4 linked regions of the Homo sapiens genome follow. The protein of the gene in region 3 binds, or shares a complex with, the protein of the main gene of each other region. Each region holds a gene or a part of one and is shown on either strand. Other genes may lie near its edges.

Region 1 (6,234 bases), on a different chromosome or scaffold from region 3:
TTTTTGAGACTCTAGCTCTGTTGCCCAGGCTGGAGTGAAGTGGTGCGATCTCAGATCACTGCAACCTCTGCTTCCCGGGCTCAAGTGACCCTCCCGCCTCAGCCTCCTGAATAGCTGGGATTTCAGGTGCATGCCACCACACCCAGTTAATTTTTGTATTTTCTTTTGGTAGACAGGGTTTTGTGATGTTGCCCAGGCTGCTCTCAAACTCCTGGGCTCAAGTGATCCACCTGCCTCAGTCTCCCAAAGTGCTGGGATTACAGGCATGAGCCACTGTGCCTGGCCTCTTCTATGCTTAAGAGCTTTTCCAATCTCAAAACAGTTGACCTTAGGGAGTGCATATCCGAGAATGCAGTGATCACTGGCTTATTCCTGACGAACAGGTAGTATTTTGCCCAATTTTTTATATTAATTACCTCCTAACTTCAGAAGGGTGGTAGTATCCCCATTACAAAAATGGAGAGGCTGGGCGTGGTGGCTCACGCCTGTAATCCCAGCACTTTGGGAGGCTGAGGTGGGTGGACCATCTGAGATCAGGAGTTCGAGACCAGCCTGGCCAACATGGTGAAACCCCATCTCTACTAAAAATATAAAAATTAGCCGGGCGTGGTGGCAGGCACCTGTAATCCCAGCTACTCGAGAGGCTGAGGCGTGAGAATCACTTGAACCCAGGAGGCAGAGGTTGCAGTGAGCCGAGATTGCGCTGCTACACTCCATCCTGGGGGATAGAGCGAGACTGTGTCTCCGAACAAAAAAAAAAGATGTTACTTTATATGCTAGACTTTTCCAATAGTATACCTTTAGGATCATACTAAATTGTTGGTAGCTTATTTGTTAAAGGTGGAATGTTAGGTTAAAATGTATTAATCTGAGGCCAGGCACAGTGGCTTACACCTGTAATCCCAGTACTTTGGGAGGCTGAGGCGGGTGGATCACTTGAGGTCAGGAGTTCGAGACCAGCCTGACCAACATGGTGAAACCCTGTCTCTACTAAAAAATACAAAATTAGCCGGGTGTGGTGGCACATGCCTGTAATCCCAGCTACTTGGGAGGCTGAGGCAGGGGAATCACTTGAACCTGGGACGCGGAGGTTGCAGTGAGCCGAGATTGTGCCATTGCACTCCAGCCTGGGCAACAAGAGCGAACTCTGTCTCAAAAAAAAAAAAGTATTAATCTGAGATACACTTTAATTTTTTTGGTGTTACATCTTTGACAATCTAATAAATTCGCATTCAGTTTCAGTGGGTTCATGTTACCTTAGTAATTCTTGAGTGTCTTAAGAGTAAAGCTGGCCACATTTGTATCTAAACTGTTTGCTTTGTTTATAGGATTTTAAACTGTCTACGGTTCTTAACCTCATCTGTTAAGTTCCCATGCCTGGAGAAGCTAATGCCAACTCATCATGTGATAATTCAATTTGTACAATAAATTATGAACCTGGAAAAGCTGGTTGTCTTTATTTACAAGATATCAAAAATATAAAAACTGTACAAAATGCAACAAAGGCAAAAACTGGCAGTGACTTGGTCTAAATCTTTTAGTTTCCCAAAGCAAGGCTCAGTACTGGAGGTAAGCAACTGAAATGTCTGTCTGACTTCAAGTGTACTAGGTTGTATGTAGCTGTTTTAGCTGAAGTAGAACATGGAAGCTAAATTTCTTCACCTGGTTTATCGAGTGTTTGGGTGCACTCAAAACTCAACAGGTATATAAATTCAGATGTCAGTGGGTGGCTGTACTTCCTCTAGATCTAAGAAAGGAACCCTACCTAGTTACATACATTCCATTAATCATGGGCCAAGAAAAAAAAAGTTAGTGGATCATTTAACATAGTTTTTGAGTGCCATACAGTAACTACGTTTTTACAGCAGAAACATACATGCTCATAGGATTCTTCAGCTAAAATTCAAGATGATAGTATATTTCTGAATTTGAATCTTGAAGCAGGATGAATTATTGAAATCAACTTTTTTTCTAAATGTAATAAATTAAAATAGCATTTGAACAGAAAATGCATAGTTTCCACACAATCCAAAGCACCATAAATGTCCCCTCCATGATCATAATACCTCTTATTCAACTAACGGAAATTAGTCAAATGTGGTTGCTATAGAAACGTGGAACTGTCCTGTTCAGATTTTTCCAAGCAGCATACTTCCAGATCCATATAGACAAAAACATTCTCTGTAGCTTAAATATTAATCACTGAGGTATTTGCTTTTAGTCTCCCTTTTTAAAAACAGTAGCTTCCAAAAGGTCTTTAATACCGATGGTTTATTGTGGACTATAAGCTCCTGCAGCTAGAACCAGGTTTCTTCGAGTAAAATGAAGGTGTACAACTGGTGTTGATTTGGTCATATATGTTCCCAACAATAACTCCTGTGAATTCTCAGGTAAATTTATATGCCCAGTGGCTGTAGTAAAGTCATCGGTCTCTAAATCTTCAAAGGCTTTGATAGCATCCCATAATCGAACTGTATTATCCATTGAACCTAAGGGGAAGTCAAAGGAAACCATTAGTTGCATCCATCATATTTACATTCGGACATTTTGTCCACTACACTATGTATTTACTGTACATTTTGGGTGAAAAATCTAAACTTGACCAATAACTCTATTCCTTCCTAAGGAGCATTATCAAGCAGTACTTTAACCTGAGAAGTGATTGATGTAGGATGACACTCTGGAATCATAGCTAAAGGGAAGTAAAACCTAAAACATAAGGACTTAGTATTGCAGTCGTCAACACTGTTTCCTCTTAACATAGCATTTATCGTAAAGCCATTAATAGTCATTTACCTGATGCCAAAATTTCACCATCTCTACTAAACCTAAGTGAACAGACTGTATCAGTGTGGCCTTTTAATTCTCCAACCATCAAACCATGTCCAATATCCCAAAGAAGCACTCTGCCATCTGTTGCTCCTGTAGCCAGGAATCTCCCATTGGGAGAAAATGTCAAGGAATGAATTGGTCCCTAGAAAAAAGTTCATAGAAAAGATCAAAGTATGTCTAGGAAAATAAGACAAAATTTTAAAGTTTTGTAGTAAGAATGGTATCTTTAAAATTTATGTGTCACTTGTTTAAAAAATATTTTTATTTTGAAAGCAACCTTGGATGCTGGAATAGTAAGAGTGTAAAATACCTTGTGTCCAGTGAAGATCCTTACACAGTTACCATTCAGGACGTCCCAGAGCCGCACAGTTCTGTCTGCAGAGCCCGTAGCAACATAATTAGAATTTGGATGGAATCTGGTACAATTCACATCAGCAAGATGGCCGGCAAATATTCTTAAAGGCTGATAGTGGTCTGTAGCCCAGAGCCTTTTATAAAGTTATTGAAAGCAAAAGATGACAATTAGTAGATAGCTGTGAAACGCCAAAAATCTATACAAAATAAATACAGAAACATCCACATAAAAAGTTAGTTCTGAGTGGGCCCCCCACTTACTAGTTAACTGAGGGGAAGAAAAATGAGACTCACAGTCCTAAGAGTTCATCTGGTACAATTTTTTTTTTTTTTTAAGCTGAGGTCTTGCCAGGCATGGGGGCTCACGCTTACACTTCTAGCACTTTGGGAGGCCGAGGCATGCAGATCACGAGGTCAGGAGTTCGAGACCAGCCTGACCAACATGGTGAAACACCGTCTTTACTAAAAATACAAAAAATTAGCTGGGCATGGTGGCGCACGCCTGTAATCCCAGCTACTCAGGAAGCTGAGGCAGGAGAATTGCTTGAACCCAGGAGGTAGAGGTTGCAGTGAGCCGAGATGGCGACACTGCACTCCAGCCTGGGTAACAGAGCGAGACTCTGTCTCAAAAAAAAAAAAAAAAATGCTGAGGTCTTGCTCTGTTGCCCAAGCTGGATTCAAACTCGGTTCCAGCAATCCTCCCACCTCAGCCTCCCCAGTAGCTGGGACTATAGGCGTGTACCACTGTAGCCAGCCAAAACTTAAGTTCTAGAACTCCAATTCTCTGTATATTCTTCCTCCTCTATTCCTAGTCTAAACCACAGAAAAGTATTTTCCCCTAGTTCTGGCCACCAAATAGTTGTTTTGTTTTGAGACAGTCTCACTCTGTCATCCAGGCTAGAATGCCGTGGTGCAATCTCGGCTCACTGCAACCTCTGCCTCCTGGGTTCAAGCAATTCTGCCTCAGCCTCCTGAGTAGCTGGGACTACAGGCACGTGCCACCACACCCGGCTAATTTTTGTTTTTTTTTTCAGTAGAGACGGGGTTTCGTCATGTTGGCCAGGCTGGTCTGGAACTTCTGGCCTCAAGTTATCTGCCCTCCTTGGCCTCCCAAAGTGCTGGGATTACAGGCGTGAGCCACTGCACCTGGCCAAATAGTTTCTAACCTGAACTACCTTATCCTCAACTTCTAAGCAGATGACAGAGAAACATAAAGGTGCTCACAGTGGTATGGAAGACAAGGTTAAGTATCTGATGGGGTTGGGAGGGAGGATTGTTAATTAACTATTTTTTAAAAACCAGGATTCATATAGATGTAATTGCAGATATAATAATACTCCTGCCCCAATTTCTTTTCTTTTTTTTTTTTTTTTTTTTTTTTTTGAGATGAAGTCTCGCTCTTGTCCCCTAGGCTGGAGTGCAATGGTGCGATCTCGGCTCACTGCAACCTCCGCCTCTCAGGTTCAAATGATTCTCCTGCCTCAGCCTCCTGAATAGCTGGGATTACAGGTGCCTACCACCACGCCCGGCTAATTTTTGTATTTTTAGTAGAGACGGGGTTCCACCATGTTGGCCAGGCTGGTCTCAAACTCTTGACCTCAGGTGATCCATCCACCTCGGCCTCCCAAAGTGCTGGGATTACAGGCATAAGCCACTGCGCCCGGCCCCAATTTCAAATAAGTTATAAATGCAAAAGCTTCTCAGAAAGTTGAACCTCAATAATGGAAGTGTAAATGAATTTGGCTGGCTGTGTAATTCCCAACAAGAAACCATTCTGTTCATTGAATAGACCCAGTCATAAGATCACAGTGTTCTTACCGAGCTACTCGGTCATGGCCCCCTGACACAAAATAATATCCATATGGAGAAAATTGTGTGTCCCATACTGGATAGTTGTGTCCTTTATATCCCACCAAACAAGTAAATGTTTGAAGGCTCCACAATCTAACAGTTCCGTCCTCTGAAGAGGAAAGCAGATAGTTCCTGAGAGAAGAGAAGGTGATATATTTGACTCCCAGAGTAACCTTTGGTCACCTGCCCAGTTTTATATACATTTGAATACATTTAATATTTTATATATATTTGACTATATTAAATATACCTAACATGCTGCATCTCACTTTTAATTCATACACGCAATTCACAGTAGGTATCAATTGAAAGAACTAACCAAACTAATGTTAACCCTGACACTCTACATATACCGAGCACCTACTGAATGAGGTAATATGATACAAAAACTTAGGGAAAATCAGAGTTCTTTACAAGAAAAAAATAGCAGGGGTAATTAACAAAGTATAGTCAAATAAGGTCAATTGAGAAAGTTTAAGAAATGTGATATGTCACTTAAAACTCAACAATTTTTGACCCTAAAATAAAGATGCTATTTTCCCATGCTGTGTAAGCTATGTAAGAATTAAAAAGGAAATGTCTTTTGAAGAAAAAGAAAAAAAAACTACAGACATGCTAATAATTCTCTACCTTTTTCAAGCATAAACACAAAAGATTGATAGTCAGAAGGTTATTACAATTTTCACTGAAATCAGACGTTTCCCTCAAAAATGTATCATCTGGCAAAACCTTATCAAGCAACAAAAAACCTAATTCTCAAAGTTTCGTAATGATGAAACCTTGATGGATGGAAAGCTATTATCTTTTTTTCTTTTCTTCTTTTTTTGAGATGGAGTTTTGCTCTTATCACCCAGGCTGGAGTGCAGTGGTGCAATCTCGGCTCATTGCAACCTCTGCCTCCCATGTTCAAGTGACTTTCCTGCCTCGGCCTCCCAAGTAGCCAGGATTACAGGTGGGCGCCACCACACCCTGCTAATTTTTGTACTTTTTAGTGGAGACAGGATTTCCCATGTTGGCCAGGCTGGTCTCAAACTCCTGATCTCAGGTGATGCGCCTGTCTTGGACTCCCAAAGTGCTGGGATTATAGGCGTGAGCCACTGTGCCCGGCCTGAAAGCTATTATCTATCCAAGTAATATACTGATGGTATTATGAATACAAAACACCCTCCACCCATTTTTACAGTGTTAGAGATCATG
Region 2 (8,644 bases), on a different chromosome or scaffold from region 3:
GACACAGTGGCTCATGCCTGTAATCCAGCACTTTGGGAGGCTGAGGGGGTAGATTGCTTGAACCCAGCAGTTCAAGACCAACCTGGGCAACATAGTGAGACCCTGTCTCTACAAAAAATTCAAAAATCAGCAAAGCATGGTGGCATGTGCCTGTAGTCCCAGGTATTTGGGAGGCTGAGGTGGGAGGACCACTTGAGTCCGGAAGGTCTCAGCTGCAGTGAGCAATGATCATGCCACTGCACTCCAGCCTGGGCAACAGAGTGAGATCCTGTCACACACACAGACACACACACACAAAAAATTGCGTATCTTTAAATACTGGAAAAGGAGGGGAAAAAAAAAAACCTATGTTGGATAATGGTATTATGGATAATATTTTTATTTTATTCAAGGATTTTATAATTATGTCCTTATAAAAAATGCAAGAGGCTGGGCGCGTTGGCTCACGCTTGTAATCCCAGCACTTTGGGAGGCCGAGGCTGGCGGATCACCTGAGGTTGGGAGTTTGAGACCAGCCTGACCAACATGGAGAAACCCTGTCTCTACTAAAAATACAAAATTAGCTGGGTGTGGTGATGCATGCCTGTAATCCCAGCTCCTCGGAGGCTGAGGCAGGAGAATCCCTTGAATCCGGGAGACGGAGGTTGCAGTGAGCCAAGATCGTGCCATTGCACTCCAGTCTGGGCAACAAGAACGAAACTCCATCTCAAAAAAAAAAAAAAACAAAAGGAAGAAGGGGGGATAGAATATACATGTATAACCTCCATCCTCAATGATAAATAGTAACCAATAACTTCTGCAAACAAGCACTCAAATGGATAGCTTATTTCAAAGGGATGCCATAAGTTCTAGTCTTACCTAAAGTTTAATATTTCAAATCTATTCTTCAATTAACTAAGACCAGTTAGGAAAGAATCTTACCATTTCAGTGATAAACTCTATGACAAGATCTTCAAGAATATCCACTGACTCAGTATAAGGATTCTGGTCATCCCCAAAGCCATACATCATACATCGCACTGTAAAAGAACAATCACTTACTTTTGTTTACTTTTACAGATTTAACAATTTGATACTTTAAAAAAATAAAGTAGAAATGAACCAAGTTATAGATAATATTGGTATGAAAACATATTTACATCGTATTTGTTATCTCCAAGTATGGATTCTTGTGTAAAAGGTTTAAGAACAGTCTGATGACCAACTGTTCCCACGTAGCCTCCAGCAAAACTCTTCCTTCCTCCCACCTACTGAACCCTAAGGTAAACAGTCTTTTCCTAATCTCTAGCATCTACTTACCAGTCCCTGCCCCCAGCAGAACACCTTTAAGTAGGAAACTCTGGCAAAGGACAGGACAGACAGCAACAGCTTAGCCTTTTTTGGAGGTGGTTTTTGTGTGTGGGCATGGCAGTGGGGCGTTGGAAAAACGGCAGACTCTTTACTGATATTACCATAGGGGAAAAGACATGAGAGACAGTTCTCCAAATACTTTTTTTGTTTGTTTGTTTGTTTGTTTTTCTTGAGACAGAGTCTCGCTCTGTCGCCCAAGCTGGAGTGCAGTGGCACCATCTTGGCTCACTGCAAGCTCCATCGCCTCCTGGGTTCACACCATTCTCCTGCCTCAGCCTCCCGAGTAGCTGGGACTACAGGCACCCACCACCACGCCCGGCTAATTTTTTGTATTTTTAGTAGAGAAGGGGTTTCACTGTGTTAGCCAGGATGGTCTCGATGATCTGACCTGGTGATCTGCGTGCCTCAGCCTCCCAAAGTGCTGGGATTACAGGCGTGAGCCACCGCGCCCAGCCCCAAATCTGTTCTTATAGGAAGAAACAGGGTACTCAAAATGAGAAAGCAGAGGGCTTACTACAAGGAATTTTGACATTTCCTAGATCAATACAACTGCAGCAAAGCCCTTTCAGGCTTCATCTGAAGAAACCATAGGAAATGCAAAGGATAAGTCTAGGTCGGGTGCAGTGGCCCACGCCTGTAAACCCAGCACTTTGGGAGGCCCAGGCAAGTAGACTGCTTGAGCTCAGGAGTTTGAGACAAGCCTGGGCAACATGGCGAAACCCTGTCTCTACATAAAAAACAAAAATTAGCTGGGCGTAGGCCTGGATGGTGGCTCACGCCTGTAATCCCAGCACTTCAGGAGGCTGAGGCAGATCACTTGAGGCCAGAAGTTTGAGATCAGCCTGGCCAACAAGGTGAAAACCTGTTTCTACTAAAAAAAAAAAAAAAACACAAAAGTCAGCTGGGGGTGTTGGCACATGCCTATAATCCCAGCTACTCGGGAGGCTGAGGCATGAGAATCGCTTGAATCCAGGAGGCAGAGGTTGCAGTGAGCTGAGAATGCGCCACTGCACTCCAGCCTGGGTGACAGAGGGAGGCTGTGTCTCAAAAATAATAATAATAATAAGAGAGACTGTGTCTCAAAAATAATAAGAGAGAAGTCTAATACAGACAAATAAAAATAACTGCCAAAAGATAAAACATATATAGCCCTTATTATATGCCAGGTACTGTCTTAAGTCCTTTACATATATAACTCATTTAATCCTCACAATGATCCTTTAAGGTAGAAACTATTGATTATCCCCATTCTATAGATGAGAAAATTAAAGCACTGCAGTAACTGATTTACCCAAGGTCACAAAGCTAGTAAGAGATGGAACCTGAGTTTGAACCCAGCTGATCTGGTTCGCGTCTTTACTCATACCCACAACAGCATCGCACTTGTTGGTAGTTGTAGTTTAGGGCAGACAGGATCCGTGTGAATTCTTTTTTTTGCTCTCCTTTTTTGAGACAGTCTTGGCTCTGTCGCCCAGGCTGGAGTGGTGTTGCAGTACAGCTTGCTGCAGCCTCAACCTCCCTGGCTCACGTGAGCAGCTGAGACTACAGACACATGCCACTATGCCTGGCTAATATGTGGGGTTTTTTTTGAAACAGAAGTGTCACTGTGTCACCCAGGGTGGAGTGCAATGGCACGATCTCAACTCACTGCAACCTCCACCTCCCGGATTCAAGAGATTCTCAAACTTTAGCCTCCAAGTAGCTGGGATTACAGCCATGCGCTACCACACCCAGCTAATTTTTTTGTATTTTTTAGTAGAGTCAGGGTTTTGCCACGTTGCCCAGATAGTCTTGAATTCCTGGCCTCAAGTGATCTGCCTGCCTTGGCCTCCCAAATTATTGGGATTACAGGCCTAAGCTACCACACCCAGCCATTTAAAATTTTTTCTAGAGACAGGGGTCTTGCTATGTTGCCTAGGCAGTTTTTGAACTGGTTTCTAACTATTTATTTATTTTTATTTTTTCGTAGAGACAGGGTCCCACCTTGTTGCCCAGGCTGGTCTTGAACTCCTGGACTCAAGTAATCCTCCTGCCTTGGCCTCCCAAAGTGCTAGGATTACAGGTGTGAGCCACCACACCCAGCTGAGATCCACAGAGGTTCTTATCCTATCGCCTATAAACTCCCAGTCCAGAGACAAGCTTTAAGAAGTCCTTGAAGGCCAGCGCGGTGGTTCACGCCTATAATTCCAGCACTTTGGGAGGCCAAGGTGGGCGGATCACCTGAGGTCGGGAGTTTGAGACCAGCCTGACCAACATGGTGAAACCCCGTCTCTACTAAAAATACAAAAATTAGGGGGGCGTGGTGGCACGCACCTGTAATCCCAGCTATTTGGGAGGCTGAGGCAGGAGAATAGCTTGAACCCAGGAGGCAGAGGTTGCGGAGAGCTGAGATCATGCCAATGCATTCCAACCTGGGCGAAAGAGGGAGACTCTGCCTCAAAAAATAAAAAAAGAAGTCCTTGAGACTACCCTGAAATCATACGGAAAAATTTTATACATTATCTGTACATGGGCATTTTTCTGGGAATAATTATAACTTTTATCAGATTATCAAAGGGGTATATGTAAATGGTAAGAAATGCTGTCAAATGCTGGAAGTGTTCTGTATCTTGATCTTAGTAGTGATTACAAGTGTGTGAGTGTGTGTGTGTGTGTGTGCGCACATGTATACAGTTGTCCCTTAGTATCCTTGGGAGCTTGGTTCCAGGACCTCCCGTGGATACCAAAATCTGCAGATGCTCAAATCCCAGATATAAAATGGCATAGTATTTGCATATAAGCTAAATACATCCTATGTATATTTTAAATCATCTCTAGGTTACTTACAATACCTAATACAATGTAAATGCTATGTAAATAGTTGTTATACTATACTGTTTAGGGAATAGTGACAAGGAAAAAAGTCTATACATATTCAATAGAGGCACAGTTTTTTTTTCTGAATATTTTCCATCTGAGGTTGGTTGAATCCATGGATGCAGAACCCATGACATAGAGAGCCGACTGTATAGCATACATAAAATTCAGCAAGCTGTTCACTTAAGACTTGCACAATTTATTGTACCTAAGTTTTTTTTTTTAAAAAAGATACTCATAGAATACTTCTAAAGGAAGAAATGAGTAAATTAAGAATAATTCCTCTATTTAGAAGAAGTAAAAACTAGTAGAAGTACAAAGAGAAGAAAGTAGACCAGGCCTACAGAAGAAAAGGGTGACTTGGAAACCAGCCTGAGATAGACATATCCCTAGGGTTTTACACTGGCAAGAGTCTTTAGGTCCAGAAACAGGAGTAAAAAAACAAACACAGGAGCCAATAGTTCCTATCGTTCTGTTTTGGATTCTGTACTTTTTTTTGCCTTTTTAAAAAAAAGATAATTTTAGATTTACAGCTGAGTTGCAAAAATAGTACAGGGTTCCCATATGCCCTATATCCAGCTTCCCCTTATGTTAACATGTTATACAACCATAGGGAGTCATCAAAGCTAAGAAATTAACATCGGTACAGGTACAGACTTCATTCAGATTTTACAAGTTTTTCCACCAATGTCCTTTTTCTGTTTCAGGTTCCCATACTATTTAGTTGTCATGCCTCCTTAGTTCCCTCGAATCCGATAGTTCCTTGACTTTTTCATCTTTCAAAACCTTGACGCTTTCTTTTTTTATTTTTATTTTTTGAGACGGAGTCTCTCTCTGTCACCAGGCTGGAGTTCAGTGGTGTGATCTCGGCTCACTGCAACCTCTGCCTCCCGGGTTCAAGCGATTCTCCTGCCTCTGCCTCTCAAGTAGCTGGGACTACAGGTGCAGGCCACCACGCCCAGCTAATTTTTCTATTTTTAGTAGAGATGGGTTTTCAACATGTTGGCCAGGCTGGTCTGGATCTGCTGACCTCATGATCCGCCCATCTCAGCCTCCCAAAGTGCTGGGATTATAGGCATGAGCCACCGTGCCCGGCCCTTGAGTAGTGGAATTATAGGCATGCACCACCACGCCGAGCTAATTTTTGTATTTTTATTAGAGACGGGGTTTCGCCATGTTGGCCAGGCTGGTCTTGAACTCCTGACCTCAAGTGATCCTCCCACCTTGGCCTCCCAAAGTGCTGGGATTACAGGCATGAGCCACCGTACCCAGTCCCCCCCAAATTTTTTTTTTAAAGGTTCAGGAGAATAGATCTTTCGTCAGTAACTTCTATGAATATTCAGGTAAGATAAGGAGAAGCCTGAAGATTACAAATTCCTGTCATCACAAAGTAATCTCAGTGGAACAAAGGTCTTTGCTAACAACCGACTGAACATCACTCTGGGATGCTCTGGTACAAGGATCCCCTTCTTATGCTGACCTAATAAGTAAAAACCACATAATGGTATAAGGAGCATCAGAGAAATGAAATAAGAAATGGTCAGCATTAGTGAGGAAACAAAATATGGAAAAGGATTTGGATGTTTAAAAAATAAAACAGTGTCTGGCGGCTCATGCCTGTAATCCTAGCACTTTGGGAGGCTGAGGCAGGAGGATCACTTAAGCCTAGGAGTTTGAGACCAGTCTGGCCAACATGGTGAAACTTGTCTTTACTGAAAATACAAAAATTAGTTGGGTGTGGCCAGGCACGGTGGCTCACGCCTGTAATTCCAGCACTTTGGGAGGCCGAGTGGGGTGGATCACCTGAGGTCAGGAGTTCAACACCAGCCTGGCTAACATGGTGAAACCCGTTTCTACTAAAAATACAAAAAATTAGCCGGGCATGGTGGCACACACCTGTAATCCCAGCTACTTGGGAGGCTGAGGCAGGAGAATTGCTTAAACCTGGGAGGTGGAGGTTGCAGTGAGCCGAGATCACGCCACTGCACTCCAGCCTGGGTGACAGAGCAAGGCTCCATCTCAGGAAAAAAAAAAAAAAAAATTAGCTGGGCATGGTGGCATGCACCTATAGTCCCAGCTATTCAGGAGGCTGAGGTGGGAGGATCACTTGACACCAAGAGTTAAAGGTTGCAGTGAGCTATGATCATGCCACTGTACTCCAGCCCCAGTGACAGAAGAGTGAGACCCTGTCTCTAAGAAAATAAATAAAAATTAAGAAAATAATTTTTCTTAAAAAAGATACACTGACGCTGAAGCTGGGCACGGTGGTTCATGCTTGTAATCCCAGCACTTTGGGAGGCTGAGACGGCGGATCATGAGGTCAAGAGATCAAGACCATCCTGGCCAACATGATGAAACCCTGTCTCTACTAACAATACCAAAATTAGCTAGGCGTCGTGGCATGTGCCTGTAGTCCCAGCTACTCAGGAGGCTGAAGCAGGAGAGTCGCTTGAGCCCAGGAGGCAGAGGCTGCAGTGAGCCAAGATTGCGCCATTACACTCCAGACTGACAACAGTGAGACTCTGTCTCAAAAAGAAAATATATATATATATATATACACACATATATATATATATATATATATATATATATATACACACACATATATATATATATATATATATACACACACATATATATATATATATATATATATACACACACATATATATATATATATATATATATATATATATACACACATATATATATATATATATATATATACTGACCCTGTAGTTTCAAGGGCATTTGGGAACTGCTCACATATAACCCAGCCTAAATAAATCATATTCATAAATCTGTGCGGCCTCATCTCTCAATACTTAGACATAACTTTACATAAAGGACCCAGGACTGGGAGATGGAGAGCACATTTTCATGCTGTGTTCCAGGGCTTGGCCTGGATCATCAGTATTAGTAGCAGCTCTCCCTTCCTCGTGTTGCCAAAAAGGGTCAAAACCGTCTACTGAGGGGGTAGGATGGAGAATCAATACATTATAATCTCCATGTTATTGTTTATTTTATTTGTTTATTTATTTTGGACACAGGGTCTGGTTTCGTCACCAAGGCTGGAGTGCAGTGGTGCAATCTGGGCTCACTGCAACCTCCACCTCCTGGGCTCAAGCCATCCTCTCACCTCAGCCTCCAGAGTAGCTGGAACTACAGGGGCATGCCACCATGCCCTGCTAATTTTTGTATTTTTTGTAGAGAGAGGGTTTCACTATGTTGCCCAGGCTGGTCTTGACCTCCTGGGCTCAAGCAGTCCGCCTGCCTTGACCTCCCGAAGTGCTGGGATTACAGGCGTGAGCCACTGCATCTAGCCTCCATGTCACTATAATGCCTTACACGATTCACCACCTTTTTTTTTTTTTTTTTTAAGACAGAGTCTTGCTGTGTCACCCAGGCTAGAGTGCAGTGGCGCAATCTTGGCTCACTGAAACTTCTGCCACCTGGGTTCAAGCGAGCACGTCTGGTTAATTTTTGTATTTTTAGTAGAGACGGGGTTTCATCATGTTGGCCAGGCTGGTCTCGAACTCCTGACCTCCAGTGATCCACCCGCCTCAGTCTCCCAAAGTGCTGGGATTACAGACGTGAGCCACTGCACCCAGCTGTTCACCACCTTCTTACTTTGTTCAGGGCCTTAGTCCAAAGCCCAAGCCCCAACTCACTTGCTACTCTCCCTCAACACCTGTTGCAGGATCCATTATTACCTGTGGCTTACAGTCAAAGAAGCCTCTCTACTGCTGTAAAGGCAAGAGGAAAACTAATGGAGGTATGTTCTTCTGCCCTAAATTAAAACACTAATTACATTTGCTCACTTAAAAAGCAATTTATAGGCCGGGTGCAGTGGCTCACGCCTGTAATCCCAGCACTTTGGGAGGCCGAGGCAGGCGGATCACAAGGTCAGGAGATCGAGATCATCCTGGCTAACACAGTGAAACCCCGTCTCTACAAAAAATACAAAAAAAGCTCTCCCTCCCCCTCCCCCTCGTCTGCGTCTCCCGCTTTCCACCGTCTCCCTCTGTTGCCGAGGCTGGACTGTACTGCAGCGATCTGGGATCGTTGCAGCCTCCCTGCCTGACTACAGGCGTGCGCCGCCACGCCTGACTGGTTTTTGTATTTTTTGGTGGAGACGGGGTTTCGCCGTGTTGGCCGGGCTGGTCTCCGCTCCTGACCTCGAGTGATCTGCCCGCCTCGGCCTCCCGAGGTGCCGGGATTCCAGACGGAGTCTCGCTCACTCAGTGCTCAATGCTGCCCAGGCTGGAGTGCAGTGGCGTGATCTCGGCTCGCTACAACCTCCACCTCCCAGCTGCCTGCCTTGGCCTCCCAAAGTGCTGAGATTGCAGCCTCTGCCCGGCTGCCACCCCGTCTAGGAATTGAGGAGCGTCTCTGCCTGGCTGCCCATCCCCTGGGATGTGGGGAAGCACCTCTGCCC
Region 3 (8,644 bases):
GTGCCTTTAACTGTGGCTGCCCTAAAATGTTTTTGTCATACACTTGTCTCATTTTGGTCCTCTTTAAAAGATGGTTTTATAATCAGCTATAAAATTTAACAGGTGCTAATAAATGCAGGTTTCTGATTAATAACTCTGGAGATTGTGACATTAGAATAGAGGAAAAACTTTCAAATAGAAGAGTGAATGGTGTTTGGTTTACTTTAGACTGTATTTGTATAAATATATTATTAGTATGTGTCCAAAATTATGGGAAACTTCTATAATGTTGATATAGTTTAGTGTACATTAATAATTATAATTGCTATGTAAAATTGTTGTATGCCACAGAAGTAACCAAAATTCCTAGTCAATTGTAGCTTTAATAGTGGCTATAGACTTTTGTCATCCACAGACATTTTATCTTGCTTTGGTCCTTTTCAAAATGCAGTTTATAATCAAATATAGGACTCTAAGTGCAGGTCTCAGATAACTTTAAGAACTGTGCTATTGGAATAGAGGAAAAAAACAAACTTCTAGGACTCTCACGGAGAGCTAATGTGTTAAACATTGCTAAACCTTTTGTTTTCAGAGTCAAGAGAAATTATTTCTTTAGAACTATTTGCAACTTTTATCATGTGAGTAAAATAAACTCCTGTGAACAAAATTTACAGCATATTGTTCCTCTCTACCTGATTTCTCCAGAATTTGGAAACTATTTGTGAATATTCTCAATTTATGGCAGTATAGCTAATTGCATAAGTGCAATAAGAATCTGTTTTCTTTTGTAACAGGCCACAGTTGGAGAAATTGGTTATTTTACCAAGGCTTTGACTGGAATGGCATGCTTTTTTTTAAAGAATCAAAGTTGACTTATATAGCCAATTAAAGCCCGTTGGGGAATCTGGCCTTATACCCCGTCCACACAGAGTCTCTGTACAAGGTTCCTGACCTGTGGTAAGTAAAGAATGTCACTTTCAAACAGGCTCAGGAACCCCAAGCTATCTTGGGACCTCAAGAGGAGACAAATTTGCCCAACTCATAGGTATTTGAGGGTACAAACCCATGGCTGGGCTCGGCTTTTAAAAAGTCTTATCTGAGATTCTTCATGGAACAGAGTTCTATCAAAGCCAATTTAAAAAGTCTAAGTGAAAAATAATTATTCTTGCTGCACTTTATGCAAATAATCGGGCCAAGTACAGTAAGACTAAAGTTTATTTTGTAAACAAATCAGTTGTATCATGATTTGTTTTTAATAAAAATGGGGACTGGAGAGAGAAAAATTATGCTTCAAAAGAAAAACTATAGTACACTGTTGTTAGCTGTTCTTGAGGTTTTTTCTGCAGTTTAGACTAAATTCTAAAGTCTTTGTGGGTTAGAAGTCCCCAAACTAGTGCTTCCAAATCTTTGCTTTTAAAATTGGGAATTGTACTCCTCATCCTAGGACTCGTTATTTACCTTATAGTGGGCTGTTTCACTTAAACACTGTAGTAAAACTACAGAGTACTAATGTTTGTGCCATGCAAGCCATGAACGCCTAGCCAGGCCTGCATGAGTACACTCAGACAGTTGCAAACCAGTTCCACTCTTCTCACCTTCGGGTTCACTCCCATTCCCATAATGTGCCCTGTCAGCAGGAAGAAGCCAGAGCAATTGATAGCCTTTTCCCATCTTCACAGCCTACACCTTAAGATTAAGGTGTTATAAAACCCAAAGGGAAGGACTGAAACCACGTTTGCAAAATTATGACTGAGACGGTGAAAGAGATCTAACTTAACTGACTCCATCTTGCTTCTAACCTCCAAGCTGTCCTTGTTCATTCCTGGGCGGAGGCTAAACTAACTTTGGGAGAAACTTAGTTTAGAGTTTAAACAAAGACAGTGACACTCCTTTTCCCAAAGAAGACCTCCATCTTGCCTGGAGACTAGATTGCCTTTGTAGGACTAACATTAGCCACAAGATTGGAAATTATGGTTTAGAAGTCATGCAGCTGGAGGCTACAAGATTCTGACCCTCCCTATACTGTTCCTAAGATCAGTGTTGAGACACCTTGCACTTGATGGATCAGCTGGCACCACCCAGATCAATAAACTGGCTCATCTGATCTTGTGGCCCCCACCCAGGAACTGACTCAGTGCAAGAAGACAGCTCTGAGTCCCTATGATTTCTTTTTTTTTTTTTTTCTTGAGACAAAGTCTCGCTCTGTCGCCCAGGCTGGAGTGCAATGGTGCAATCACGGCTCACTGCAAGCTCTGCCTCCCGGGTTCACACTATTCTCCTGCCTCAGCCTCCCAAGTAGCTAGGACTACAGGTGCCCGCCACCATGCCCGGCTGATTTTTTGTATTTTTAGTAAAGACGGGGTTTCACCATGTTGGCCAGGATGGTCTCGATCTCCTGACCTCATGATCCCCCCACCTCGGCCTCCCAAAGTGCTGGGATTACAGGCGTGAGCCACCTTGCCCGGCCCTGAGTCCCTATGGTTTCATCTCTGACCAATCAGCACTCCTGGCTCACTGGCTTCCCCCGACCTACCACATTATCCTTAAAAACTCTGCTCCCCGAATGCTGGGGAAGACTGATTTGAGTAATAATAAAACTCCAGTCTCCCCCTCTGCCCCCCAACCACACACAAAAAAGAATGCCATGTGAAGACAGAAAGCTGGAGTGATGCATCTATGAGCCAAGAAATGCCAAAGAATGCTGGCCAACCACCAGAAGCTAGGAAGAGGCAAGGAGGGACTCCCCTACAGGTTTCAGAGGGAGCATGACACCTTGCTTTTAGACTTCTAGCCTCCAGAACTGTGAGACAATAAATTTCTGTTGTTCTAAGTCACCTGGTTTGTGGCATTTTGTTACAGCAGCCCAGGAAACTAATAGAGAGATCTGACCAAGGGCAAGGGCAAGGGCTATGTTGCATTAGCTGGGCAGCTACTATTCCCTCTCCCCCACCCTAAGGTATGGAAAAATGCCCAGAGGACGTGAGGGCTTGCCATCACTATATGGTATGCAGGCAGAAGCAAAGGAAGTGTGGGAGGGCACCTTCCCAACGGAAGGTAAAACTGCCATTCAGGCAAATTAGAACACATTCAAACCACAGAGGATAATTCATCTTCTCCTCATTCAGACCTAGAGCTCAGAGTGATAAGTTCCATTTCATTATCATTACTAATTTTTATTTATTTCTTTTTGAGACAGAGTCTTGCTCTGTCGCCTAGGCTGGAGTGCAGTGGCGCAATCTCAGCTCACTGCAACCTCTGTCTCCCAGGTTAGATTCTCCTGCCTCAGCCTCCTGAGTAGCTGGAACTACAGGTATGTGCCACCACGCACAGCTAATTTTTGTAATTTTAGTAGAGATGGGGTTTCACTGTGTTGGCCAGGCTGGTCTTGAATTCCTGACCTCAGGTGATCCATCTGCCTCGGCCTTCCAAAGTGTTGGGATTAAAGGTATGAGCCACTGCTCCCGGCCATTACTAAATATTTTTAAAGTAACTTTTCCCCCAATTGAAAAAATAATTTTCCTATTATGGAAAATTTGGAAAACTCAGAAAAGTAAACACAAAACAAAATGACCTATAATCTCAACCCAAAATTACTATGAACATTTAGTGGAATACCTTTTCAGTCTTGTTCCTATGCGGCTATGTACTTTTGTGTTTTAGTAGGACAGGCAATACTGGGGCCAGCTTCAATTTCTTTGTTAATTATACTTTAGCTGGCAAACTTGAGAACATAATTCTCATTTGCCAAATTGTTTCTCAATTATGAAAGATAATCTGAATTCTTTTTTTTTTCTTTATTTATTTATTTTTCAAATGAGACAGGGTCTTGCTCTGCTGCCCAGGCTGGTCTTGAACTCCCAGGCTCAAGTGATCCTCCTGCCTCGGCCTCCTAAAATGCTGGGATTACAGGTGTGAGCCAATGTGCCCGGCCACATTCTGAGTTTTGAACCACTCTTTCATCAACAAGCTTTTGGACTGGACTCTGCCACGTGACAGTCAGTAGGAACTGACTCCGTGCTTTACACCACGCGCAGTCCCAGTGCTTCATCACTCACCGGAGTTTTGATGTAGGTGTGGGGATCAGGGAACTCAGGAAAATGGCTGGGGATGTGCGGCGGGTGGGGTCGGTTCTGCCCTGCAGTGAGGGCCTTGGGGGTCACTGGCTGATTGGTCACCGGAGCTGCAACAGAGTCACAACTGATTACCCCTCCACCCAAGACCCTGATTTCTACAGATTATGGTCTCTCCCCAAAGCCTCCTTTTCTCAAAAAAATGCCAGACCTCAATTTTCTAAACAAGTTGCATTTTGTATTTCAATCGATAAAAGGTCTTTGATGGCTTACAATGCCCAGCCCTGCTGGCTAATCTTGGTTGACGTTCCCTTTGACAACAATCTGCCCACAAGCCTCTTAGGTAGAGGTGGGTGGCTGTGGCCACAGTAACTACGTAAAACAGCATGCTGAGGAGCTACGCAGGTTACATGGGCTGCTGGTTCTCTTTTCAGAGACCTTGGATAACAAAAAGGAACAATGAGCTGGGGACATTAAGTGTGAGCTTAATCATAACAAGAGGGGATTGAAAATGGCACCTTCCACTGCTATGTTGAGAGGGAGTTTTTAAAAAAATGCCAACAAGAAAAAAGTGACTTTAAAGAAGAAATCCAGGCCGGGTGCGGTGGCTCACGCCTGTAATCCCAGCACTCTGAGAGGCCGAGGCAGGCGGATCACTCGAGGTCAGGAGTTCGAGACCAGCTTGGCCAACATGGTAAAACCCTGTCTCTACTAAAAATATAAAAGTTAGCTGGGTGTGGTGGCGAGCGCCTGTAATCCCAGCTACTTGGGAGGCTGAAGCAGGAGAATAGCTTGAACCTCGGAGGCAGAGGTTGCAGTAGTCAGCCGAGATTGTGCCACTGCACTCCAGCCTGGGCAACAGAGCGAGACTCCATCTCAAAAAAAGAAAGAAAAGAAAAAAATCCAGTTAACTCTCTCCAGGTCCTACAAGCCCAAACTGGTTACTCTCTACTCAGCTTATGGCACCCAGGTTTACTTAAAGTAGAGGTCATCAAAGTTTGTGTAAAGGGCCATATAATAAATACTTTAGGTTTTGCATGTGGTACAGTCTCTACCACAACTAAACTATGCCATTATAGCATGAAAACAACCACAGATAATAAGTAAATATGGCTGCATTCCGATAAGACTTTATTTACAAAAACAGGAGGCAGGCTGCATTTGGCCCATAGGCCACAATTTACCAACCCTTAATCTAAGAAGAACAAAAACTTTCATTTTTCCAAGCAGCATCATTTGCCCTTCTGGGGCTAGAACACAAGAAACACAGCAATATCTCAAAGATGGTTTACCTTTTGGTGACTGAATTTCACATGCTAATCAGACTAGCCCAAATAAAGATTATATTGTAGGTAGCCCCAAACATTGGAAGAGAGCCCACAACAAGGAAGTAGCTACTAATCCAATCCCTACCATATTCAATTACTTCATTCCACAAGCATTAATTGAAAAATTGCTAAGTACCTCAGTTCAAAGTCACTTACGAGCAGTGATGACCATCCTCTGAGACCGTTTTGCATAAGCAGGGAGAGTGTCCACATTGAAACCTAAGAGACAGGAAAACAAAAATCACTGCCCAGACCACTGGATATTGAATACAGAAAGAATAGTAGTAGTATGGACAAATGGCTTAAACTCTCAACTCAATGACCTTGCAGCCACGCAAAAGAAGCTCTGGCAGAATTCCCTAACAGGGAATTATGAGGCCTCTTAGATGTGTTCAGAGGAATCTCTCTTGATAACTCTCTCAAGCTCAAAGCAATTCAAGAGAACCATGAGGGAAACCAAGAACACTTAGCAGACATGCCTGATTCCTAGGGACTCCTCTCCCAGTTGCATCGAAGAACTGGAAACTGAAGGTATACTCACCCATCTCAACAAGTGTGACCACGATATCGGACAGTGTGGGCTGGGTCCTGGCTGTGTGCTCACAGTAAGACTTGGCACTTCTCCCAATTTCTGAAATGTCTAAGAGGGGATTAAAGGCATAAAACTTATTCTCAGTTCCTCAGAAAGTTAAACATAGAATTACCAGATGAGCCAACAATTCCACTCCTAGGTATATACATAAATGAACTGAAAGCAGGGATTCGAAAAGCTACTAGTACACCAATGTTCACAGCAGCATGATTCACAGCAGCCAAAAGGTAGAAACAACAGGTGAATGAACAAACAAAATGTGCTGTATACATACAATGGAATATTATTCAGCCTTTAAAAGGAAGGAAATTCTGGTAATGTTATAGCATAGATGAACTTTGAAAACATTATGCTAGACCAGGTGTGGTGGCGCAGGCCTGTAATCCCAGCACTTTGGGAGGCCAAGGCCAGTGGATCACCTGAGGTCAGGAGTTTGAGACCAACCTGACCAACATGGCGAAACCCCTTCTCTACTAAAAATACAAAAATTAGCCAGGCCTGGTGGTAGGCGCCTGTAATCCTAGCCACTTGGGAGGCTGAGAAATAGCTTGAACCTGGAAGGAGGAGGTTGCAGTGAGCAGAGATTGTGCCATTGCACTCCAGCCTGGGCGACAGAGTGAGAACTCCTTCTCAAAAAAAAAAAAAAAGAAAAGAAAAAGAAAACATTATGCTAAGGCCAGGTGTGGTGGCTCACGCCTGTAATCCTAGCACTTGGGAGGCTGAGGCAGGTGGATCACTTGAGGTCAGGAGTTCAAGACTAGCCTGGCCAACATGGCAAAACCCCAACTCTACCACAAATATAAAAAATTAGCCAGGTGAGGTGGCACACACCTGTAATCCCAGCTACTCAGGAGGCTGAAAATCGCTTGAACCTGGGAGGTGGAGGTGGTTGCAGTGAGCCGAGATGGCACCACTGCACTCCAGCCTGGGAGACACAGCGAGACTCCATCTCAGAAAAAAAGAAAAGAAAAAAGAAAACATTATGCTAAGTGAAATAAGGTAGACATAAAAAGACAAATAAAGATTCTACTTATATGAGGTATCTAGAGATGGAAAGTAGATTAGAAGTTACCAGGGGATGGAGGGGGAGGGAGAATGGGGAGTTATTGTTTATGGGTACAGAGTTTCTGTTTAGAATGATGAAAAAGTTCTGGAAATAATGTAAATGGCTGCACAACATTGTGAATGTACTTAATACCACTGAATTGTACACTTAAAAATGGTTAAAATGATAAATTTTTTTATGAATATCTCACTACCACACACACAAAAAGGTCTTATTCTCTGATGGGCAATTTTTCTTTCTTCTGCCTGAAGCTGAACCTCTATTTAAGAGTCACGTTAAAGTCTTTTGGGGAAAGGGGAAAGGTTTCTAAGATGGAGTTTTTGAAGCTCGGCTCTGTGAATGAGCTTCCAAGGTGGACAGGAGGTTTCATGAATACTCTGAAGCTGTGCTGAATTTTAAACACAAAAAAAGCATTTTTTGGGGAATGGGTCCACAGATTTTATCAAATGTACAAAGGGGTCTCAAAAGGTAAAGAACTCCTACTTTAGGGGCCCAGTGGCTCAGAAGATAAAAGCAAGTGGTACTTGACAGGGAAGGGTGTCTAACAAGAGACCTACCACCTACCACCAACCCCCCTGCTATACTGAGCAAGTCACTAATACCAGCCTCTAGACATGACTTTTAAACTCTAAATTCCAAGATTGTTCCAAGAACTGCATTCTTATCTCTTGGGAACTATTAATTCATTCCTTTAGGACAAAGTTCAAAAAGTAGTAGCCTGGGAATCTGTGGTAGGCCCCAAAATCTTTTCTAAAGTCCACAGGTCAAAACTATTTTCATAATAAAATTAAGTTGTTATTTGACTTTTTCACTCTCATTCTCTCAGGTAGTTTTCCTGAGTCTATGTGACTTTTGATGACAACATGGGTCTGATGAATAACAGAATATGTGATTGTACATTCTTATTTTCAAAATTTCTTCTTCTTTTTTTTTCTTTTTTTTTTTTTGAGACGGAGTTTCGCTCTTGTTGCCCAGGCTGGAGTACAATGGTGTGATCTTGGCTCAATGCAATCTCTGCCACCTGGGTTCAAGCGATTCTCCTGCCTCAGCCTCCCGAGTAGCTGTAATTACAGGCGCCCGCCACCACATCCAGCTAATTTTTTGCATTTTTAGTAGAGACAGGGTTTCAGTATGTTGGCAAGGTTGGTCTTGAAACTCCTGACCTCAGGCGATATACCCGCCTCGGCCTCCCAAAGTGCTGGGATTACAGGCGTGAGCCACCACACCTAGACCCAAAATTTGTTTTTTCTAACGTGGCAAATACACATATACAAAAGCTACTTGGGGTCCTCAATGTTTATTAATATAAAGGGATTCTGAGAGCTGGGTGTGGTGGCACATGCCTGTAGTCCCAGCTATGTGGGAGGCTTGGGTCCAGAAGTTTGAGGCCAGCCTGGGCAACACAGCAAGACCCCATCTCTAATTAATAAGAATAAATAAATATAGGAGTTCTGAAGCCACAATGATTGAGATCACTGCTTTAGGAAAACATTTGGTATTTAAAAGTGCCAAATATCAGCTGCAGAGAGCCACCTTGCCCAAGATCACCCTTCCTGGGGTAGCCCACATCTACTGTTTGATCAAGACCTGAGTATAAAGGCAGGGCCTT
Region 4 (7,000 bases), on a different chromosome or scaffold from region 3:
ATGCATGGGTAAATTTTGTGTTCATAGTGCTAAACAGAGCAATAAATTTTAATGTAACAGAATATGAATGTCTGTTGATATGATTTCAGATTACACATTGCAACCAACTTATAAGAAACTATCATTTGTTGCATTTAATGCAGCATTAAAGAAGAACTTACACCATTATCCAAAAAATCTTTTAAAATACTCCTCCCTTCTCTAGTTACATATGCCTACATTAAAGAGATTTGCAAAAATTTAAAACATTGCCAGTCTTGGCCAGGCACAGTGGCATGCGCCTGTAATCCCAGCTATTAGGTAGGCTGAGGCAGGAGGATTGCTTGAGCCCAGGAGTTCAAGACCACCCTGGGCAACAGAGCAAGACGCCATTATCAAAGAAAAAACAACCAAAACATTGCCAGTCATTACCAAGTTTTTTGTCTTGGAAAATATAGTTATTTTCATAAAAAAAAATGTTATCTGTTAACATATAATGGGTTCATTGTCGTTACTTTTAAATGAATTACTAAATATTTTTAAACTTTTCAGTTTTATTTTTATTTTATTTTATTTATTTTTTTTGAGACCGATTCTTGCTCTGTCACCCAGGCTGGAGTGCAGTGGCATGATCACGGCCCACTGCAACCTCTGCCTCCCAGGTTTGAGTGATTCTCCTGCCTCCTCCTCTGGAGTAGCTGGGATTACAGGTCTGCGCCATCACACCCAGCTAATTTTTGTATTTTTAATAGAAATGGGGTTTCACCATGTTGGCCATGGTGAATCACTCCTGGCCTCAAGCGATCCACCCACCTCGGCCTCCCAAAGTGCTGGGATTACGGGCATGAGCCAATGTGCCTGGTCCAGTTTTATTTTTAATATGGTAAATATTGACAGATATAGTGCACATTTTTTAAGTTCTTAATAATTTTTAGGAATTTAAAGGGGCCCTAGGACGAAAAATTTGAGAATTGTTGCTTTAGAATTTTTTTTTTTAAATGTGCTGGTGGCAAATTCTTAGCTTTTGCCTGCCTGTAAATGTTTTTGTTTCATCTTTATTCCTTAAAGATGTTTTCAAAGACATAATTTATTTTTCTTTAGCACATTGAAGATGTTATTCCACTATCTTCTAGATTTCATCATTGCTAATTAAGAAGTCAGCTGTCACCTGTTTCTTCTTTGAGAGGAATTGTTCTTTTTTCCCTCTAGCTGCCTTTCAGATTTTTCCTCTCTATCTATGATATTTTATAGCTTCACTTTGATGTGCCTAGATATAGATTTATTTTTATTTATCTTGCCTAGGGTGTGTTGGGCTTCATAAATCTGTGGATTGGTATCTTTCGTCAGTTCTGTAAAAGTCTCAGGTACTCTTTGTTAACATTCGTCTCTGCCCCATTTTTCTTCTAGAATTATGATCAAACATGCACTAATTAGACCTTTTATTGTATTCTCTTTGCTTCTTAGGCTATGCTCTGAAAATTTATTTTGTCCTAATACTCAGTTTATAGTTCTGTCTTGTTTCCAATCTGTTGTTAAATCCCTCCTTTCAATTTTAAATCTCAGTTACTGTATTTTTTAATTTCTAGAAGGTCTGTTTGGTTCTTTTCAAATCCACTAGATCAAGTCACTCTCTGTGACTTCCTACGACCTATATTTCTAGCCTTTGCCTTTTATTATTTTTTTAACATTGTAAGCAAAGTTGTTTTATAGTTGATAATTCTTGTATCTGTGGTCTTTGTCTCTTCATACTAGCTGTTATTTCTTAACAGTTTTCCCTGATCCCACCTTACTTCCTCATAGATTTGATTATCTTTGATTATGTGCTGCTTATTTTTTTTAAAGATAATTATCTGTATTAATATGAGACCTAGATTTTAAGATACTTCCCCTCAGGATTGTGCTGTGTGCCTGGGCACATTGCAAGTCCAAATTACTTTAAAGTATCCTAGAACACCAGAGGTGAAAATTCATGCCATTCTCGTGCATCTTTACCTTATGGGTATAGCCCATTGGGAATCCTTAGTGTCGGGAGGGAGTTCTATTACACCTTCCACTTCGGGCAGATCCTGGGCTTTGACATTCGTCCTCTTCATCATAACCAAATATCAGACTTGCCTAATGCGTAAATGCCCTTGGGGTAAAGCATCTGTGTTCTGCTTACCTCTCAGGGTTCCTGCTTTTCCCTTTAGCTTTGGTTCCATCACTTGTGTGTTCAACCAGTATGGGAAACTGCCTCTAGAAGCAGTGTTTTAAAATTTTAGTCTAACCATAAAAATAGAGAATGCTTACCCTCTGGATATAAATGCCATAGCGATAACTTTGAACTCCTACATTACATGCCTTTTATGTAAGGCAAACCTCAGTACACATTGAGAGACAGTGTCATATACTTATTAAGATCACAGGCTCTAAAATCAGACTGCCTTGTTTAAATCCTGGCCCTGCCATGTAGTAGTAACCTGTGTTAATTTATGCAAGATACGTAATCTCTCTGTGCCTTGGTTTCTTCGTTTAAAAAGCAGAATAATAGCTTGCCTCATGTGGTCATTATGAAAAACAAACAAGGCCGGGCACCGTGGCTTACGCCTGTAATCTCAGCACTTTGGGAGGCTGAGGTGGGCAGATGACCTGAAGTCGGGAGTTTGAGACCAGCCTGCCCAACATGGAGAAACCCCGTCTCTACTGAAAAAAAAAATACACACACACACACACACACACACACACACACACACACACACACAAATTAGCTGGGCGTGGTGGTGCATGCCTGTAATCCCAGCTACTTGGGAGGCTAAGGCGGGAGAATCACTTGAACCCAGGAGGCGGAGGTTGCAGTGAGTCAAGACTGCGCCATTACACTCCAGCCTAGGCAACAAGAGTGAAACTCCATCTCAAAAAAAAAAAACCTAGATAAGGCAAGGCAAGTAAATATTTAACACAGTGGTGCCTGGCCCACAATTGGCTTTCAAGTGCTTAGGACAGTCAGACATATAGAAAGTGCTCAATAAATATTCATCGGTTATGATGTTAAGCATTTATGAAGTGTCTGCTGCACCAACAAGCCTGTGCTAAAGTCTCTTGATCTTTGGCTGTATCCAAGTTAGGAAGATGATCACCCTTGCAGGAAACAAATAGAGAACAATTCGACAGCAGTAATGAAGTTACTTGCTGAAATAATGGTGAAGTTTTTGAAGTAACTTAATGTTTTATGAATTTATGATCAGAATAGCAAAGAGTCAGTGCCTTTTGGTGAAAGTGGTTTCTAAACTAGGACTATGAGGAAGTGGAACCGTGAAGGCTGGCAGCAATGAGGCCAGAGGCTGTCGTGAGCAACAGCCGTGAACATGGCACGGGGCCGGCAGTTCCCATCTGGATGCAGTTTTTGAAGTGTTTCTCCACATTGAGGTTCTCACTACAACCCTCTGAGGCCACTGCATTTCTTTTCACTTTGTTGCTGAGAAAAACAAGGCCTAAAGAATTGTGTGGAATAGTAGAAAGAGACAAGCTGGGACAGTCCACAGGCTGGCAATTCCTGGTGAGGTGAGGATGGCCATATTCCATGGCCCAGAAACTTCATTTCTAGGGATGGGGCTTGGAGAAGTCCTTGAACAGTTCTATTTATGAGTCAGTGTGTAAGTTTACAAGTGAATGTCTCCTACTTTCAGTAGGATGATGGACAAAAACCTTTGGCTTACTAATACCATGGAATACAATATAGTAATTAGAATAAATAATATAGATCTCTATGTGTCAGCATGGATAAATCAGGAGACATAAAACTAAGTGGGAAAAGCTAGTTGCAGAGGACAACTGGAGTGTGACATTGTGTGTATAAAAGTTAAAAGACAGCAAACAGTAATGCAGTATGTATTGTTTATGGACACCTACAAAGGCAGGAAAGGTACAGAGAAAAAAACAAAGTACCAAGAACAATAAACAAAAACATACCTGTCTTAGGGCAGTGGTTGCTCTGGGGCAGGGAAGGAAGTTCATCTGAAACAAATATGGCAAAGGCTAACATATTTTATCTCTGATTATTACCTAACTGTCTGTTATATTGTTTTCTCTGTGTGTGAAATTATATATATATATATATATATATATATATATATATATATATATATATACCTTTTTTTTTTAATAAAGAAGCTTAAAAACAAGCTTTGGAATCAAGTAGACTTTGGTTCAAAAGCTGCCACCCGTTTACTCAAATTCCTTTCTCTTGCTGATCTTCAGTTTCCTCATCTACAAAATGGGGTAATCATTACTTCTTTGATGTTCTCATAAGGACTGGATGAGATGATGTTTGTAAAGTGCCTAGTATAACCTCTAACTTCTTATAGGTCCTCAATAAATAGTGCTTTTTATAATAAATTGAGTAATCCAAGGCCACAGGTCTAGTCTCTGGCGGCTGTAGAATTTGAACTCAGATGTCCTGGCCCCAAGTCCAGAGCTGCTTCCACTGGCGAGAGTTGTGTGAAGAGGATGCTGTTAGTGGAGGAGCAGGGTCACAGTACCACAGCTCTAGCGACCTGCGGCAGCATCACCAGGACAGAAGCTGCCGCTGCATTACCTCCTCCTTACCTCTGCAGCCCGTCTGGGAACAATCTTTTTTTTTTTTTTTTTTTTTTGAGACGAAGTCTCACTCTGTAGCCCAAGCTAGAGTGCAGTGGCGAGATCTCGGCTCACTGTAACCTCTGCCTCCTGGGTTCAAGCGATTCTCCTGCCTCAGCCTCCTGAGTAGCTGGAATTACAGGTGCACGCCACTGCACCCGGCTAATTTTTTGTATTTTTTAGTAGAGACGGTGTTTCACCATGTTGGCCAGGCTGGTCTTGAACTCTCGACCTCAGGTAATCCACCCACCTCGGCCTCCCAGAGTGCTAGGATTACAGGGGTGAGCCACCTTGCCCAGCCTGAACGGTCAATCTTTAAAACCTGGCAATCAAAGCCAAACCCAGAAGTGAGAAAGTCTTCACAGTTTTATTGACAATGGCATTGAGAGTATTAAGAAGAAACATTGGAATTAAGAAGAGAGAAATAGAAACTTTTTCTTTTTAAGCTGCTCTGTCCAGCAGCTTAGGCCAGGTTAGGTTTATGGTAATTAACAACCCAAAAATCTCAAGGGCTTCCAACAGCAAATGTGTCTTTCTTGCCCATCTCCAGTGTGGAGCACAGGCTGCTCCAGGTCCTCTCCAGCTGGAGCCACAGTGGAAGGAGCAGCCCCTGTCAGGCCCCCCCGAGGACTCAGCAGAGGTGGGGGTGGGGAGCGCCACCTCTGAAGCCGTCAGAGCTTCTGCCCCAGCACAGGAACAGGCAATTGAAGTCATATTTCTGTGAACAATGCATGTGTATTGGTTGCTAGAAATTTCTAACTGTCTGGCCATTGAGGGGAAGTTTGGAAAATGAAAAATTCGTCTGAGTAAGTGGAGAGGCCACTTCATGCAGGGCCTGGAACTCAGTTCTTGAGCTGCCTCTAGACGTTGAAGTATTTCGCTACTGGAAGAAAAGCTATTTTACGATCATGTTTTTAAGCACGGGTTTGGTTCGATGATGATCCTGTTTTGACTTTTACCTTCTCTTCTTTTGTTGACAGTGTCATCAGCAAGGTGGTCCCTGCCCCCGAGGCCAAGCCGGCGCCCTCGCAGAACAGGCCGAAGACCCCACCGCCGGCCCCCGCGCCCGCCCCCGGCCCCATGCTCGTCAGCCCTGCGCCCGTGCCGCTGCCGCTGCTCGCCCAGGCCGCCGCGGGCCCTGCCCTGCTGCCCTCCCCGGGTCCCGCCGCCTCCGGGGCCAGTGCCAAAGCCCCCGTGCGCAGCGTGGTGACTGAGACGGTCAGCACCTACGTGGTGCGTACCTGCCGCCCGCGCGGTTAGCATGGAGACGTTTTCAGATCGAGACAAGTGTGTGCTCTGAATCACTATCGAATTTCAGACGCATTTCTCTTCAAAATTTTATTATTTACTTAATTATTTTTGAGACAGGGTCTCCCTGTGTGGCTCAGGCTGGAGTACAGTGGCCCAATCATAGCTCACTGCAACCTCAAACTCCTGGGCCCAAGCGATCCTCCTGCATTAGCTTCTCAAAGTGGTGGGGTTACAGGCCTGAGCCACTGCCCCTGGCCAGACACGTTTCTTTTTTTTTCTTTTTTTTTTTTGAGACAGAGTTTCGCTCTTATTGCCCAACCTGGAATGCGGTGGTGAGATCTCAGCTCACTGCAACCTCCACCTCCCAGGTTCAAGCGATTCTCCTGCCTCAGCCTCCTGAGTAGCTGGGATTACAGGCACGTGCCACCACACCTGGCCAATTTTTTGTATTTTTAGTAGAAACGGTTTCACCGTGTTAGCCAGGCTGGTCTCAAACTCCTGACCTAAGGTGATCCACCCGCCTCGGCCTCCCAAAGTGTGGGATTACAGGCATGAGCCACCGTGCCCGGCTTTTTTTTTTTGAAAGGGGATTTCACTCTGTCACCGAGGCTGGAGTGCAGTGGTACGATCTCGGCTCACTGCAGCCCCTGCCTCCCAGGCTCAAGCGATCCTCCCACCTCTTGAGTAGCTGGGATCACAGGCAGTCACCACCACTCTCGATTAGTTTTTTGTATTTTTGGTGGAGACAGGGTTTCACTATGTTGCCCAGGCTGGTCTTGAGCTCCTGAGCTCCAGCAATCCACCCATTTCTGCCTCCCAACGTGCTGAGATGACAGGCATGAACAACCATGCCCAGCCAAGATGCATTTCTTCATTGCAGTTTTTCACTGCATTTTCAAGCTTTTGGCTGAAAAGTTACATCACAATGTTCACATAGTCAGCCTCCATAAATCATATCAAAGCTTGTTTTTATATTGTTTTGGGATATGACTATATGCATATATACAGTAATATCAATCTGTAAATGTAGAGACGCATGGTGGTACTGAAATCTCACATTGAATTTCTTGATCAAGCAATTCAGTTATTCACTTAAGAGTATAATTTATAGAATGTACACTGATATTATGAGCCAGGTAGTGTTTCTGAATAATAG

Evidence for each region.
Region 1: TAF8 (region 3) and TAF5 share a complex: the UniProt entries of both Homo sapiens proteins name them as parts of the TFIID basal transcription factor complex.
Region 2: TAF8 (region 3) and TAF13 share a complex: the UniProt entries of both Homo sapiens proteins name them as parts of the TFIID basal transcription factor complex.
Region 4: TAF8 (region 3) and TAF3 share a complex: the UniProt entries of both Homo sapiens proteins name them as parts of the TFIID basal transcription factor complex.

Annotation. Positions count from the first base shown.
Region 1 is NC_000010.11:103,384,261-103,390,494, reverse strand, and holds the end of TAF5 (transcription initiation factor TFIID subunit 5), read right to left. Parts: intron 5,170-6,234; coding exon 5,005-5,169; intron 3,321-5,004; coding exon 3,143-3,320; intron 2,975-3,142; coding exon 2,797-2,974; intron 2,490-2,796; coding exon 2,272-2,489; 3' UTR 1,430-2,271; downstream 1-1,429. UniProt on the Homo sapiens protein: The TFIID basal transcription factor complex plays a major role in the initiation of RNA polymerase II (Pol II)-dependent transcription.
Region 2 is NC_000001.11:109,065,214-109,073,857, forward strand, and holds part of TAF13 (transcription initiation factor TFIID subunit 13), read right to left. Parts: intron 1,020-8,644; coding exon 922-1,019; intron 1-921. UniProt on the Homo sapiens protein: The TFIID basal transcription factor complex plays a major role in the initiation of RNA polymerase II (Pol II)-dependent transcription.
Region 3 is NC_000006.12:42,052,904-42,061,547, reverse strand, and holds part of TAF8 (transcription initiation factor TFIID subunit 8), read right to left. Parts: intron 6,018-8,644; coding exon 5,919-6,017; intron 5,597-5,918; coding exon 5,534-5,596; intron 4,160-5,533; coding exon 4,035-4,159; intron 1-4,034. UniProt on the Homo sapiens protein: The TFIID basal transcription factor complex plays a major role in the initiation of RNA polymerase II (Pol II)-dependent transcription.
Region 4 is NC_000010.11:8,003,505-8,010,504, forward strand, and holds part of TAF3 (transcription initiation factor TFIID subunit 3), read left to right. Parts: intron 1-5,573; coding exon 5,574-5,826; intron 5,827-7,000. UniProt on the Homo sapiens protein: The TFIID basal transcription factor complex plays a major role in the initiation of RNA polymerase II (Pol II)-dependent transcription.